Linked DNA regions of Homo sapiens: region 1 is linked to region 2. Evidence: fine-mapped expression QTL. Tissue or cell type: cerebellar hemisphere. Region 2 holds a variant in brackets; the other region holds the start of a gene. All regions are shown on one strand. Distances are from middle to middle.

The links. PIP is the estimated chance that this variant, and not a neighbour inherited with it, causes the effect.
Region 1: it holds the start of RCL1, and the variant in region 2 is fine-mapped to the expression of RCL1 in cerebellar hemisphere (GTEx, PIP 0.96). The same link has a PIP of 0.9 or more in tibial nerve.

What each region holds. Positions count from the first base shown.
Region 1 is chr9:4,788,146-4,796,327 of GRCh38, forward strand. RCL1 (RNA terminal phosphate cyclase like 1) reads left to right here and starts at 4,799. Exons shown (of 9, transcript NM_005772.5): 1 at 4,799-5,082. The coding sequence starts at 4,947. RefSeq lists enhancers at 4,056-4,105, 4,926-4,975, 5,050-5,549 and a silencer at 4,486-4,845.
Region 2 is chr9:4,856,063-4,864,244 of GRCh38, forward strand. It overlaps RCL1 (RNA terminal phosphate cyclase like 1), which reads left to right. Exons shown (of 9, transcript NM_005772.5): 9 at 4,063-5,004. The coding sequence ends at 4,213. LOC124902113 (a long non-coding RNA gene) reads left to right here. Exons shown (of 2, transcript XR_007061402.1): 2 at 1-1,013. Among named protein-coding and RNA genes, the nearest start is that of MIR101-2, 9.9 kb to the left of the region's middle. The variant A/G (reference allele first, on the strand shown) is at 4,238.

The sequences.
Region 1 (8,182 bases), 68 kb before region 2:
AATGAAGGACAAAAATGATCAAATGATCATTTCAATTGATGCTGAAAAAGCACTTGATAAAATCCAGTATCGCTTCCTCATAAAAGCCCTAACAATACTGAGTATAGAAAGACATCCCTCAATATAATAAAAGCCACATATGATATACCCACAGCTAATATCATACTGAATGGGGAAAAACTGAAAGCCTTTCATCTTTTTTTTTTTTTTTGAGACACAGTCTTGCTCTGTCACCTAGCCTGGAGTACAGTGGTGCGATCTCAGCTCGCTGCAACCTCTGCCTCCCAGATGCAAACAATTCTCATGTCTCAGCCTCACCAGTAGCTGGGATTACAGGTGCATGCTACCACACCCAAATGGAGTTTCACCGTGTTGGCCAAGCTGGTCTCAAACTCCTAGCCTTAGGTGATCTGCCCGCCTTAGCCTCCCAAAGTGCTAGGATTACAAGTGTGAGCCACCACACTGGCCACCTTTCTTCTTTGATCAGAACATGACAAGGATTCCCACTTTCACCACTCTTATTCAACATAGTACTGGAAGTTTGCAGCTACAGCAATTGGACAAGCGAAAGAAATAAAGGGGATTCAAATAGGAAATGAAGAAATTTAATTACCCTTGGGTGTGGGTGGCTCATGCCTGTAATCTCGGAACTTTGGGAGGCCGAGGCAGGCAGATTGCTTTGAGACAAGCATGGGCAACACAGTGAAATATCATCTCTACAAAAAAATTAAAAAATTAGCTGAGTGTGATGGAGCATGCCTGTACATGCCTGTAGTCCCAGCTACCAGGGAGGCTGAAGTGGGAGGATCACTTGGGCCTGGGGCGTTGAGGCTTCAGTGAGCCATGATCATGCCACTGCACTCCAGCCTGGGTGACCGAGTGAGATCCTGTCTCAAAAAAAAAAAAAAAAAAAAAGGCGGGGGGAAAGAAAAAAGAAAGAAAGAAAAGAAAGAAAAGGAAGGAAGGAAGGAAGGACGGGAGGGAGGGAGGGGAAAGAAAGAAGAAAAAATTTTCCTTGTTTTTAGATGATATAATTTTATATTTAGAAAAACCCAAAGTCCACCAAATAAATATTAGAACTAATAAACAAATTCAGTAAATTTGCAGGATACAAAATTAACACACAAAAATCAGTAGTATTTCTCTATGCCAACAATGAACAATCCAAAAAAGAAATCAAGAAAGTGATCCCATTTACAATAGCTAAAAAGAAAATAAAATACCTAGAAATGAACTTAAGAAGTGAAAGATCTCTACAATGATAACTATAAAATATTGATGTAAGATTTTGAAGAGGCCACAAAAAATAGTAAGGTATTTTATGTTGACAGGTTGGAAGAATCAACATTGGTAAAATATCCATACTACCCAAAGCAGTCTCTATTAAAATACCAATAATATTCTTCACAGATATAGAAAAAAAATCCTAAAATTTATATAAAACCACAAAAGACCCAGAATAGCCAAAGCTATCCTAAGAAAAAGAACAAAACTGGAGGAATCACATTACCTGATTTCAAATTATACTACAATTAGCTGGATGTGTTGGTGCATGCCTGTAATCTCAGCTACTCAGAAGGCTGAAACATGAGAATCGCTTGAACGTAGGAGGTGGAGGTTGCAGTGAGCTGAGATCATGCCACTGCACTCCAGCCTGGGTGACAGAGTGAGACTCTGTCTCAAAAAAAAAAAAAAAAAAAAAGAAAAATTAAAAAAAAATACTATAGTAACCAAAATGGCATGGTACTCGCATAAAAACAGACAAATGGACCAGTGGAACAGAATAGAGAACCCAAAAACAAATCTATAACCCTACAGTGAACTCATTTTCAATAAAGGTGCCAATAACATACACTGGGGAAAAAACAATCTCTTCAATAAATGGTGCTGGGAGACCTGGATATCCATATGCAGAAGAGTAAAACTAGACTGCTTTCTCTTGCCGTGTACAAAAACCAAATCAAAATGGATTAAAGACTTATATCTAAGACCTCAAACTATGAAATGGCTACAGAAAATATTGGGGAAAATCTCTAGGACATTGGTTAGGCAAAAATTTCTTGATTAATAACCCACAAGCATACGCAACCAAAGCAAAAATGGGATCATATCAAGTTAAAAAGCTTCTGCACAGCAAAGGAAACAATCAACAAACTGAAGAGACAACCCAAAGAGTGAGAAAACATATCTGCAAACTACTCATTTTGAGATATCATCTCATCCCAGTTAAGATGGCTTATATTCAAAAGACAGGCGATAACAAATACTGGTGAGGATGTGGAGAAAATGGAACCCTTGTACACTGTTGGTGGGAATGTAAATTCGTGCAACCACTATGGAGAACAGTTTGGAGGTGCCTCAAAAAACTAAAAATAGAGCTACCATATGATTCAGCAATCCCACTGCTGCGTGTATACCCAAAAGAAAGGAAATCAGCATATCAAAGAAATATCTGCACTCCCATGTTTGTTGCAGCACTCTTCACAATAGCTAAAATTTGAAAACAGTCAAAGTGTCCATCAACAGATGAATGGATAAAGAAAATGTGATACATATACACAATATAGTATTATTCAGCCATAAAAAAGAATGAAATCCTGTCATTTGCAACAACATGGATGAAACTGGAGATCATTATGTTAAGTGAAATAAGCCAGGCACAGAAAGAAAAACATCACATGTTCTCACCTATTTGTGGGATCAAACAATCAAAACAATTTAACTCATGGAAATAGAGAGTAGAAGGATGGTTACTAGAGACTGGAAAACATAGAGGGGGTGGGGATGTTGGGGGGCAGGTGGGGATAATAAATGTGTACAAAAATTAGAAAGAATAAGATCTACTATTTGATAGCACAACAAGGTGTCTGTAGTCAACAATAATTTAATTTTCATTTAAAAATAACTAAAACAGTATAATTGTTTTGTTTGTATAATAACACAAAGAATAAAATGCATGAGGGGATGAGTACCCTATCCTTCAGGATGTGATTATCACACATTGCATGCCTGTATCAAAACTTCTCCCGTACCTCATATATACATGTACCATCTACCTACAAAAATTAAAAATTAAAAAAATTATATGGAACCACAAAAGACCCAGAATAGCCAAACCTGTCCTAAGCAAAAAGAACAAAACTGGAGGAATCACATTACCTGACTTCAAATTATACTACAGAGCTAGAGTAAACAAAATGGCATGGTACTGGCATAAAAACAGACACATAGATCAGTAGAACAGAGCGGAGAACGCAGAGATAAATCCACACAGCTACGGTAAACTCATTTTCGACAAAGTTGCCAAGAACATACTCTGGGGAAAGGACAGTCTCTTCAATAAATGATGCTGAGAAAATTGGATATCCATATGCAAAAGAGTGAAACTAGATCTCTATCTCTTGCCATTTACAAAAATCAAAGAAAAATGGATTAAAGGCTGGGAGTGGTGGCTCACACTTGTGAGGCCAAGGTGGGCCAATCGCTTGAGGTTAGAAGTTTGAGACCAGCCTGGGTAACATGGCAAAAACCCATGTCTATACAAAATACAAAAATTAGCTGAGCATGGTGGTGCACACCTGTAGTTCCAGCTAATGGGGAGGCTGAGGTTGGAGGATTACTAGAACTCGGGAAGTTGAGGCTGCAGTGAGTCATGAGCATGCCACTCCACTCCACTTTATAACACACTGTTGTCTACATAAGGCTAGCTACATCCCTTAATCTTAAACTCCCACCGCTTTCAGACACTATCATACCCCGCCCCCCTTCCCCCCGCGAACCCCCGTGCATTCTGGGACTCATGGTTTGGTGAGTGTTGTCCAGGAATGGCTACAAACCCACATTACTATGATATCGGACTTCTACTTGTGTAGTCATTTGTTAGTTAACTGTACATTTTGGAAGGTTTTTGAGTAGAGAAGTGAAATAATCCAACGTTTGGGAAGATTTTCTTGTGCAGGATTGGAGGAGGACGGGAAAGAGGGAAAAAGCATTGCGCGCGTGTGTGTGTGTGAAGTTATTACAACTATCTATCTTGAAGCATGCGAGGTAGGAGGGCCTGAATTGCCATGAAACGCAATGACGATAAACGAAGGGACCCGTGAGAAAGGGGCAAAGAGGTGTCTCAATAAAATAAGCAACGGCCTGCTGTGGGAGGATTCGGGTCTCAGTATAGGCTGCCACTGTCAGCTTTGCAATATTCCTCGAGCCTTTATCCATGAGTAGGACAGGATGGCTCTACCTTGCAGGGTTACAGCATGGAGCTGCGGGACTGCGCCGGCAGTGCGCTGAGCGGCATCCCTGCGATAGGGTGAGTGCACCAACCCTTGTTGTCTCTCTTAGTAAGAAAGAGGAGGGGTAGATAATAGCATCTTCACCCCAGTAGTTGCCGTAAGTAGTAATGCTAAGAATCCGGCACGTCGTAGGCATCAATCTCAGTCCGCCATCTCCCCTTGCTACCACGCCAGGAGGTACACAGAGGAGACTGCCCCGACTGGCAACTCCCGCGCCGGGGTTCCCTGGCCATCCTCCCGCGTTCCCTCCAGCCGCGCGCTGTTGCCAGGGCCCGGGCACCGCCCAGCTCCACTACGGACCAATGGCAGCGCGGCTTGGGCACCGCCCAGCTTCAGCGGAAGCCAATGGAGGCGCGGCGCGGGCACCGCCCTGATCCGGCGCGGGCCAATAGCGGCGTGGCCCGAAGCGGGGGCCGCCCCGGTCGGGCGGGGAGGCGGGGAGGTGGCCACTGGCTCCGCCCCGCTCCCCTCTGACCCGGTGTCTAGTCTCTCCGTCTTCCTGTTCCAAACCACGTGGACGCGTCTGGGCTGCTGGAGGCAGCCCGAGCCGCCGCCGTCGGTGTCGCCGCCACCACCACCATCGGAGTCACGAGTCCCGCGTCTGTCCGAAGTCGCCGCTCTCGGGCTGCTCACGTCTCTTCGGAGAGCGCGCACATGGCGACTCAGGCGCACTCCCTCAGCTACGCAGGGTGCAACTTCTTGCGCCAACGTCTGGTCCTGTCTACCCTGAGCGGGCGCCCCGTCAAAATCCGAAAGATTCGGGCCAGAGACGACAACCCGGGCCTCCGAGGTAACTTGGTGTGGGCGGCGCGCGGCGTGGGCGCGGGGGCTGAGGGGAGACCGAGCTGATGCCGTGGGGGCCCGCGCGGTGTTGGTTGGGCGGCTCGGCGTCCGGCGAGCGCGTCGGGGAGGGCAGGTGGCGCGTCGCCTCCAAAGCCGGAGGGGCAGGCACAGTGGGGGAGGCGGGGTCGGGGCCCGAGGGGAGCGCTCAGCTGCAAGCTGCGCTCGGCGTCTCCGGGGCGCTGGTAGTAAACAGCTGCACGTTTTCCAGCTTTACGTGTAGCAACAAATCCCTGGCGTCGCCCCTTCGCGTCCCTTCGGCCCCTCTTGCCCTCGCCATAAACCTCTCAAAGGAGAAAAACAGTTTGTTGGACCGAAATATGGTGAATGAGCCGGGGGAGAGACATTGGGAGAGAAAAGTACCTTGGGTTGGTTCTCTGCCCTGTCTCAAAGCAGTTCTCAGAAGCAGCTGCCCCCTTGGACACCGGCTGTTCCTGTCGCCATGATTTCTCGGCTGCCCTCACACTTGTCCTTGGGTGTGGATAAAGAAATTTTTAAAATTCTGTGTTTGTTTTCAGCCGTGACTGTGATTGATGTGCGCAGGACAGGAGCTTTGAGATAGACTTTTAACAGTCATGGGCCTAATTGCCTTGACTTTAGAAAAGGGGTCGGTGACAATCGCTAAACTGCAGGCTTCCAAGCTCACTTCTTGCTCTGCAATGGTAGGTTAAAAAGAAATAGGCCCATTTAAACCCACATCTCATTAAATGGCGCCGGTTTTCAACTGGCCTTGGTTTACACCTGGCCCCCTGGCATGAGATACATGCATTTAAAAGCTTCTGACTGGTGGTTATCCCAAGTTGGGCGAGTCAGTAGTCAGGTGAAAAAGGAAAAAACCTGTCTGTAAATTGAAAAAGAGTGTTTGTGGTTGGTCCTGGAAGCTTCCTGAGCGGCGCTGATGTGTTTCATTTTGCACTGGCTCTTGTTTTATCTGTCTGAATGCATTTTTTGGATAGTTAGATCTCTGCCTCTCTTGGGTGGTGATTGGCTGCACATAAAGGGCAGAAGATGCCATGCTATTGACGGAGATAGGTTAGGAAGGAAAGAAGCAGAATATCCCAGGTACAGTGGTGAGAAACCTAGTGATGGTAGGAAAAACTTGTGTTGGTGGTTCCTGTCCTCTCTCTACTGCTCAAAAACACTGAGAAAGTTAGGGAGAGACCACAAATGGTTTATGCCACGACTTTTCCGTCAACAAGTGTTCCACTTAGTTTGACCCTTGGGCAAAGTGTTTGCTTGATTGCTGTGTGGCATTCTCAGCCAGCTCTCCATCCACTTTACCCTCAGGTTAGCTCAGAGAACTTGCCACTAGCTGGATATGGTAAGAAGATGGACTTCTACTTTGTATAAAAGTAGGCATAACTTTTTTTTTTTTTTCCAGAGAAATGGAAGTATAGCCTGGAAACCTGGGTTCTCTAAAATGAATCTAGTTCTATTTAGAGTTTTTCTATTGACAGGTGGCCTCCAATTTAATATTTAATGTTCCAAAGTATGCTTCTCCTTCTCCCCCTCCACTGTATGTGAGCATCTCTTCAAAGCATCTCACACATATGAGCTCCCGTTTCTTCCAAGAACAGGGCTTGGCCACTTGGCACTTTCTTGAAAGGGTGTCAGACGCTGATACCTGAGGGAGGTAGAACTGCTTGGCAGGTGTGCTGGTATTTTATGGGGAACATTACTGTAGAGCATTATTTGCCTTACCCCGTTCATATACCAGGGGAAGAAAGAGACTCCTAGTTATTTGTACATCCTTGCGCTGGCTTCAGGGCCTCAGAAACCTTGTAGATGTTTGTCTGCTTAATTTCTTTCTTTTTTTTTGAGACAGAGTCTTACTCTGTCTCCCAGGCTGGAGTGCCGTGGTGCGATCTCGGCTCACTGCAACCTCCGCCTCCTGGGTTCCTGCAATTCTCCTGCCTCAGCCTCCCTCGTAGCTGGGATTACAGGTGCCTGCCACCATGCCCAGCTAATTTTTAGTAGAGTATTTTTAGTAGAGATGGGGTTTCACCATGTTGGCCAGGCTGTATGAAACTGCTGACCTCAGGTGATCCGCCTGCCTTGGCCTCCCAGAGTGCTGGGATTACAGGTGTGAGCCGCTGCGCCCAGCCTGTCTGCTTAATTTCTTACAGAGGGAACAGAGAGATAGATATGCATTTGCAGATATACATGTATATGTGTATATGTATACACATACATGTAAGTGTATATACATATACGTGCACGCATAAATAGATGTAGTCCCTGACACATGATTTCTGGTCATAATCAAGGGAGTCCTTGGTAGCTTGATTGAAGATGTAGCCGGAAGCCTATGTTGCCCGTCATCTGTCCCTTTCTGACTTTTCCTAACTCAGATTCTCAGAGTTGGAAAAAACTCAGAGCATATCCAATAAAATCTTCAGTTCTAATGCAAGAATCACATCTCTTCAAGGTGCTTGCTTAAAACATCCCTCATGGTGTGGGCTTTGGAGGGTAGGGATAGTATGGGAGGCTTTCGGCCTCAGGAACATTTATTTAGAAAGTGTTTATTGAGCCACAGTATGTGCAAGGCTTTGTATGGGGGTGAGTGTAATATATGTGAGAAGCTGGTTGCCCCTGTTCTCATGGAGCTTGTCATGTAAGTAGGATGTTACTAAGTTTGAGTAACTTGAAGTAGGAAGGATTGAGTATTGTACAGGGGCTCAGTGGAGTTCAGAGCAGACACTTCCCTGAAAGTTACGAAGGAAGGCAGGTTTTCTGGACCTGATCTGGACAGATAGGATTGAGATGGTGGCTGCGGAAATCATTGTTTGCAAAATAAACAGTTCTTTTTTTAAAGAAATTTTATTTTAGAGTCGGGGGTACATGTGCATGTTTGTTACATGGATATATTGCCTACTGGTGGGGACTGGGCTTCTGGTGTACCCATTATCCAAATAGTGAACATCGTACCCAATAGGTAATTTTTCAATCTCCCTCAATCTTCCTCCTTTTCCAGTCCCCAATGTTTGTTATTTCCATGTTTAAGTCCATGTGTATCCATTGTTCAGCTCCCACTTATAAGTAAGAACATG
Region 2 (8,182 bases):
CAGCAGCAAAGGAGAGACCAATCTGTTTTCTCCTTCAGATGCAGAGTGGGTGAGATGGCTGGCTTTTTCCAGGTTGCCGCCAGCTGGAAGCTTTGCCCACAGATGTGGACTGTTTATCTGTGGTTTGCTGTGTTTTCTTTTTTCCCTAGGACAGGATGGGGGAGATGGTGGGATGGATAGAAAGCAACAACGACAACAGAAATTTAATTGGTTAGTAAGACAGGAAAGCCAGCAGGGAAAGCTGACTTCCCTTAATTGCCAAGAATGTTGAAAATTGTTTCTCAAAATTACCCCAACTCCTAAATTCTATCCAGTGCCTCTTTACTGAGAACCTTTACAGTGCCTTGTTTGAATAACGGGTTCAGTGATGGAGAAGAGCCTCTTTACTGAGGCTAAATTCTATTCAGTGCCTCTTTACTGAGAACCTTATACAGTACCTTGTTTGAATAACGGGTTCAGTGTTGGAGAAAAGCATTGCTGTTGAGGTACTTAAATAATTTAATGATGGGGAAGGGGACAGTGATACATAAGCATTTAATTAGACACCATGAGCAGAGAATGCTATGGAAACCTGGAGGGGTGGGAAAGATCGTTTGGGGTAGGGTTTATGGGCTAGGAAAGACTTCATAGAAAAGTTGACAAATGGGATGTTATTTTAAAGGTCGAGATGAAGTTGCACATTCCTAGGTGGAAGGAAAGCAAGGAATTGGGGGATTTTTCTATGAGCATCCAGCACTGACCAGAACTCCTGCCCTCTAGGGTTGTTAATGTTTCATCTCTTAGCCCCTGATGCGCTGGTCACTTCAGCCACAGGGTCAGGAATTGTTCAGGCCCCCTTTTCTCCATGTAGCTGTTTCCTTCCTTTAACTAGATCAGTGCTCTTAGCACAGAGGGATGGGGATGGGAGGGAAATTCATCAAGGCAGGCTTTATATGTAGTTTGGTATACACCGAGTAGGGGTGAGAACCAGGATCAGTTGTTTTATAGCATGGCAAATATGTATTGATTTCTTTATTTTAAAAAGCTTTATTGAGAACCAATTCACATATGACACAATTTACCCATTTTAAGTACACAGTTTAAAGGTTTTTTAGTGTATTCACAGACTTGTGTAACCACAGCCACAATCTAATTTTAGCACATTTTTACTACCCCCAGAAAGAAACCCTGTGCCAGCTCACAGTGCCTCCCATTCTTCCCACTCTCCCCAGCCCCAGGCAACCACGAATCTCCTTTCTGCCTCTGTGATAGATTTGCCTGTTGTGGCTTTTTCATATTGTGTAGATAGAATCATACACTATCTGGTCCTTTGTGACTGGATTCTTTCACTTAGCATAATGTTTTCAGGGTTCATTGATGTAGCACGTATCAGTGCTTTGTTCCTTTTTTATGGCAGAAAAAAAAAAATCTTCCATTGAATGGATATACCACATTTTATGCATTCATCAGTTGGTAGACATTTGGGTTGCTTCTACGTTTTGACTCTTGTGAATAATGCCATTATGAATATTTGCGTGCAAGTTTTTGTGTGGGTGTATGTTTTCATTTCTCTTGTACATATTCCTAAGAGTAGAATTACCGTATCCTATGGTAACTCCCCGGTTAACATTTTGAGGAACTGCCAGGTTGTTTTCCACAGCGGCTGTACCGTTTTACATTCCCACCAGCAGTGTATGAGGGTTCTAGTGGTTCTGCCTCCTCACCCACACTTTTGTTATTGTATGTCTTTTTATTATAGCCATCCTATTGGATATGAAGTGATATTTCACAGTGGTTTTGATTTTCACTTCCCTAATAACCAGTGATGTTGAGCATCTTTTCATGTCCTTATTGGATATTTGTGAGGAAATATCCGTTTAGCTCTCCCACTTTTTTTTTTTTTTTTTTTCAGTGAGTCTTACTCTGTTGCCCAGGTGGGAGTGCAGTGGTGCAATCATAGCTCGAGTAGCTAGGACTACAGGCTCCTGCCATCATGCCTGGCTAATTTTAAAACAATTTTTTTGTAGAGATGGGGGTCGTAATAGACTGGTCTTGAATTCCAGGCCCCAAGCAATTTGCCTGCCTTGGCCTCCCAAACTGTTGGGATTACAGGTGTGAGGTACCATGCCTGTACTCTCCCATCGTTTAATTAGGTTATTTGTCTTTTTATTATTGAGTTGTAAGAGTTGTTTATATAGTTGAGATGCCTGACCTTTATCAGATATATGACTTGCAGATCTTTTCTCCAATCCTGTAGGTTGTTTTTTTACTTTCTTGATGGTGCACTTTGATGCACAAAGTATTTTAATTTTGATGAAGTCCAATTTATTTATTTTGTCTCTTATTGCCATCCTTTTGGTGTTGTATTTAAGAAATGGTTAAGAAACCGTTGCCTAGCCCAAGGTAATGAATATTTACTCCTGTATTTTCTTTAGTGAACTTTATAGTTTTAGCTCTTACAGCTATGACTTTGATCTCTTTTGGGTTAAGTTTTGTGTGTGATGTGAGGAAGGGGCCCAGCTTCATTCTTTCACCTGTGGATATCCAGTTGTTCCAGCATCATTTGTTGCAATGATTATGCTTTCCTCATTGAGGAAATTAGCCATAACTGTGTGGTTTATTTCTTGACTCTCAATTCTCTTCCATTGATCTATGTGTTTAGCGTCAGTGTTTTTAAAGCTCCTTAGGTTATTCCATGTGCAGTCGAGATTGAGAACCATCTGGCCAGAGTGGAGAGTTTGGCTGGTTTGATTGGGAGACAGTACAGTGCGAGGTTTTTGTAATACTTCACTATAGATGTGCAAGCCATCATTCTTCACTAAGCCAGTATTCCCTAACCTTGCCCAATGAGACTTGCCAGGGATTCTTGTTAACAACATAGATTTCTGGCCTCTATGAACTGGGGAGTACAGGGCCTGGTGGAGGGTAGGGAGGGATCAGCTTTGTGTGTGGACTGTGATTCTGGGCTCTTCCATATGGACATTTCCTACCAGTTGCAAGTTCACCATAACCTTCAGGAACCTGTGTATTTAATGAACTGTTCAGGTGAGTCTTATGGTCAGGCTAGCTGGGGTGACGCTAGGTCTGCCAGGCGAGACCATTAGAAGCCTGTGCACCTGCACTGCGGTTCATCCACAGAATTGCTCTTCCCAAGGTACTCTTGGACTGATGCCATCGCCCTGTGATGCCATTGTCCTTGTTGTGTTTACTGTGCACACTTCCCCGGCCACCTTATTTAATATTGCCTTCTGCCAAATATGTACAAATACTGTCATACCCACAGTTCTTCCCCGTCTGTGTTGTTTGCTTTGTTTACATTACATAGCACTTTTCAGGAATAAAATTAATTTATTTATCTAGTCTCTATCTATACCACTAGATTGAAATCCTCCTGAGGGAAGGATTTTTATTTTTATTTTTTTTCATTTGAGTGCAATATTCCCAGCACCAAGAACAGTGCCTAGCATACAGTAGGCACTTGATACATATTAAGTAAATGCGAGGGTATTATTGGAGAATGAAGGGAGGGACTTGTCTGTTTCAGCATCAGTAGTCATTGTGCTTGTTTTGAATGTCATGGTGCTGTGAATCATGGAAATAGGTGTTTCTGTCTTTGTATAGGCCACTCAAAAATCATTGCCTAAGCCAGGTACATTGGGACACCCATAGTCCCAGGTAGTCAGGAGGCTGAGGTGGAGGATTGCTTGAGCCCAGGAGCTTGAGGCCAGTTTGGGCAACATAGTGAGACCCCATCTCTTATAAAAAAAAGAGTCATCACCATATTTCTGTCCATTTTCTGCTAGGTCTGAACTAAATAACTTATGTGTCACGTACGAACTTCTAACCTTTCCCCCCCCAGTTTAATTTATCTTGCTGTATTGCGTGTATCTCTGCAAACTATCTAAATCTTCTTTGGAAACTGGCTGGCTGAAAGGAAGTACTATTTAATCAGATTCGATGAGAAGGTCTTAACTTCAGCCCTCTAGGTCTGGGAGATTAAAACCTTGGATTCTAGGTGGTAGAGGATAATTTTTTTTTGAATGAATTTCTTTTTATTTATTTATTTATTTTTTTCCTTTTTAGGATAGAATTTTTGCGGCATTTGAAGAGCTTTTTCCAGATTATGTTTAAAATTGAAACCAAGCCATGTGGTGAAGAACTCAAGGGTGGGGATAAAGTGCTGATGACCTGTGTTGGCATTGGTTTCTCCAACCTTAGCAAGACCCTCAAGTGATAACCATCACAAGATAAGGCCCCA[A/G]TGCCTACAGACAAAGCAGAAGCTGCCACGGACACCAATGGGACCAAGTCCAAATGGATTAATCCAGGACAGAATAGCCACTTGCTTAATTTTCTGTGAAGAAATATCAATATACAAATAAAAGACATCCCTGTAGCATATGGTTTCCAGCTGTTTCTCCAGTGGCATTGCCATTGCCCAGGAGGGGCCCAGTCACCATGAGAGCTCCCTTGCCTTACCTGGAGGAAGAATGTGCCTTCAGGCCACAGTCGTGCTGCTAGAACAGTCTCGTAGCTGCAGTTCAGCTGTGCTTCCTCAGCCTACTATCATAGGCTTCCTCAGCCCTCTGTCATATGGCTGTTTTGCAAACCTGTGGAGTCTGTTACTGTTCTTTCTGCAAGGACTCACCTCCTTGAGCCTTGGTTTTTGTTGTAGGGATTAAATGAGATAATATGAGTGGCAGCTCTTCATGAGTCCTGCAGTGCTAAGCAAATGTCAGAAATTGGTGTATTAGACTATTTATCTTTGATCTTCTGAATGGATTGCTGTCATGGACACGGACACGGATCTTCATCTGGTTCATTGTATTTATATGTGAGGGATGGATGGCTGCGGGGCTCCAAGTAAGTTATTGGGATGTTTTTATATTCCAGGTGTGCTGTACATTCTTATTTTATTTTCACAATAGCTCTGTGATGTAAGTGCTATCTCCATGAGAAAATTCATAAAGGGTGTTTTGTTCCTTTGAAATGTATAATGTAAAGACATTAAATCTCCTCATTTAAGGATCTAAGTGTAATAAGTGTAATAGAGTCAGGGTCTGGGATTTTACCCTTGCAAGCTAATAAGTTAGATTATTACTTTTTTATTGATGCTACCAGAAGACATGAGGATCCTGGGTCAGAGATAAAGAACTTTACTCAGCATAGCAAGCAGCATGAACTTCGTGTTTATATTGGTTTCCCCTGTCTCACAGTGGACATGGAGGGGCCCAGGTAGATGCTATGCATGTTACAAGTTTGCATCATAGCCAAAGAACTTGTTATGTTTGGGGACTCCACCTATTTCATGGCAAGCCTGTTGTTTCACGTGCAGAGATTACTTCATCCCTTAAGACTGCCTCCTGCAAACACAGTTTTGAGAAAGAACCCAGGCAAGAGCCTGCCCAGCAAGAATATGCAGGAATACCAGGATCCATGGCAGATTTCCCCTGCCAGCTAATAGAGTCTGCATTTGATATGTGCATAGGCTTGAAGTTTGTAGAAGGGGAAAGATGTACTTCTTTCTACTTGAATTCCAAATGGTGTCCTCCCCCGGGGGTGAACTTTGCCTCATCACTCCCTCTCGGTACCTTTTGCTTTTTAAGTGAAAAGGGGCTAGAGAAAGGCTGTGCTTTGATGTCTAGGGGTGTGGGAGGATGTGGAGGTAGAGAGTTAACCTTGAGGAAGGCCAGGACATTCTGGACTATGACATTCTACTGAGAGCTTTACATACTGTATTGGTAATATGCTCTTGGTATATAACAAATGCTCACAAACTTAGTAGCTTAAAACAATACCTCTTTATCATTTCACAGTTCTGAAGGTCAGATATCCAGGCAGGGCTTGGTTGGATTCTCTGCTTAGAGTCTCATAAGGCTGATATCAGGGTGTGTGTCACCTGGGCTGGGCTCAGCTCTCATCTGAAGGCTCTGGGAAAGAATGTGCTTCCAGCTCATTCAGGTTGTCGACAGAATTCAGGGTTGTAGGACTGAAGTCACCTGTTTTCTTCCCATTTTTCTTGCTGGCTGTGAGCTGTGGACAACTCTTAGCATATAGACAGGCACTGTCCGTATTTCTGTTCACTTGGTCTCCCCTACCTTCAAGCTGGCAATGGTGCATGGAATCCTGGTACTTTGGATTCACCTTCCGTTTGATACCAGCTGGAGAAAACATTGCTTAAAAATGACTCATAGCACAATAGTCCTACCTGGATTATCTCCCTATCTTAAGGTCAACTGACAACAGCAATACTAGATTTGTGTTTAAATAACCAGGGGCTGGGAATCGTGGATTACCATCTAAGAATTTTGCCTGCCACACATACTGCAGTCTTACCTAGTGCCGCTGACGTTCGAACTCAGATCTGCCCATATAGAGCTCAAATCCAGAACTAAGGGGCACATTGCTTTTGGAATATCACATACCTGCCGTTCCTTGTACAAGCTCTGGAAATGGTGCTGTTGGTCAATGTAGGGTGGCACATAGAGGCCAGGCAGATTACTATAAGCAGTAGAGGGGATATGTGCTACTGTCTGCTGCAAACCTGGAAGTGTCTGGTGTGGTTCCAGCCCTGCATTTGGCAAAGCTGCTTCTGGAGTTGGAACATCTTGCAGGAATGGTGATGGTATTGCCAAAAAGAGGACAAATTTAATATTTATTTAAACAGCTCACTCCCAGCCCCTTCTCAAATTCCCAAGAGAAGCAATGTACCATTCCTTCGGGAAGAAGTCATCCTTTGCTGTTTGCTGGGACATCTTAGAGACTATTCAAATCCTGCATTCTCTTCCTTTTTTCTAGCTTAGCTCCTGGTCGGTCCACTTACTTGCTGGGGTAGCTTGAAGCGAGAGATTCCAGCGTTTTGGGGCTTGGTTTTCTATCTTGGTCTGTCTGTTCCTTTCTGCTGATAGAGATAGACCATTCTGAGTTAACGGCAGCAGTTGTTCAATGGGAGTGTGAGTTTTTTAGGCAGATAAACCTGTGAACTTGCTGGGGGTCATGGCAGTATCATTCTTTGCCTTCTTGTCATCTACAAGGCCCTGCTTCTGTCTTTCAACATCCTTTAACTACATTCCATGCAGACTCCAGCCAGCCTCCATCATGATGATTTTACCATAGTGGTCAAAACAGTTGCTAACGGGTGGGAGGCAGCCAGTGTGTTGCAACATGACATGTTGATTGGGAAGGAGCAACAGGAGGACCTGCTGAATTACACATTGCCCTCACTGGGCAGCTAAGCCTCAGGGGTTTTGTTCTTTTAAAAAAAAATTAAATTCTTTTTTGAGTCAGGGTCTCACCCAGGCTAGAGTGCAGTGGTGCAGTCCTAGCTCACTGTAACCTCAAACTCCTGTGCTCAAGTGATCCTCTTGCCTCAGCTTCCCAAGTAGCTGGGACTATAGGCATGAGCCACTGTACCCAGCTAATTAAAAAAAAATTTTTTAGAGATGTTGTCCAGGCTGGAGTTTTTGTGTTTTTGTTTTTGTTTTTCCAATTTAATTTTAAGTTCTGGGATACCTGTGCAGGACGTGCAGGTTTGTTACATAGATAAACATGTGCCATGGTGGTTTCCTGCACCCATCCACCCATCACCTAGGTATTAAGCCCAGGGTGCATTAGCTATTTATCCTGATGCTTTCCCTTCTGGGTTTTCTTTATTTTAAAAAATCATTTCCAAAAAAGTGGTAAAGGATAGCTAATCACAGACCCAAATTATAAAAACAAAAATTCAAGTTGTACCATGGTGCCTGTCCTCACACCAAACGGCAGAAGACCATGAGGTGGCCATTTCCTGTTAGGTCTTTGTGTTGGGAGGCTGCTAGGTGAGACCAATCCTGGCACTTAGTTTTATGGGCCCTGAGTAGAAGAGTTGAAGGTGCTAGAGGGAGGCAAAGGAAGTAGGCAGGATGTTGTACAGAAGGCTGGAAGCAGTTGATGAAATCAAAGGTAGTTGGGGACACTGGAGCATCAGTGAAACAATTTCCAAAGTTTTGGCCGTGCCTGAGGTGAGGGTGGAGTTCGGCTGGGGGAGGCGGAATCAGAGTGAGCTAAATAAGTGGATTTACTGTGCCTTCGTTCCAGGGTCTTTGGAGTAGAATGTGGGGTTCTGTTGGCCTTCCCAGTTGGTAGTGTCAGACCTGGGGTGTACAGGTGGCAATTTTAGTCTGTGATGAGTGGGAATGCAGCACTGCAGGGCCTGTGCCCACCCAGG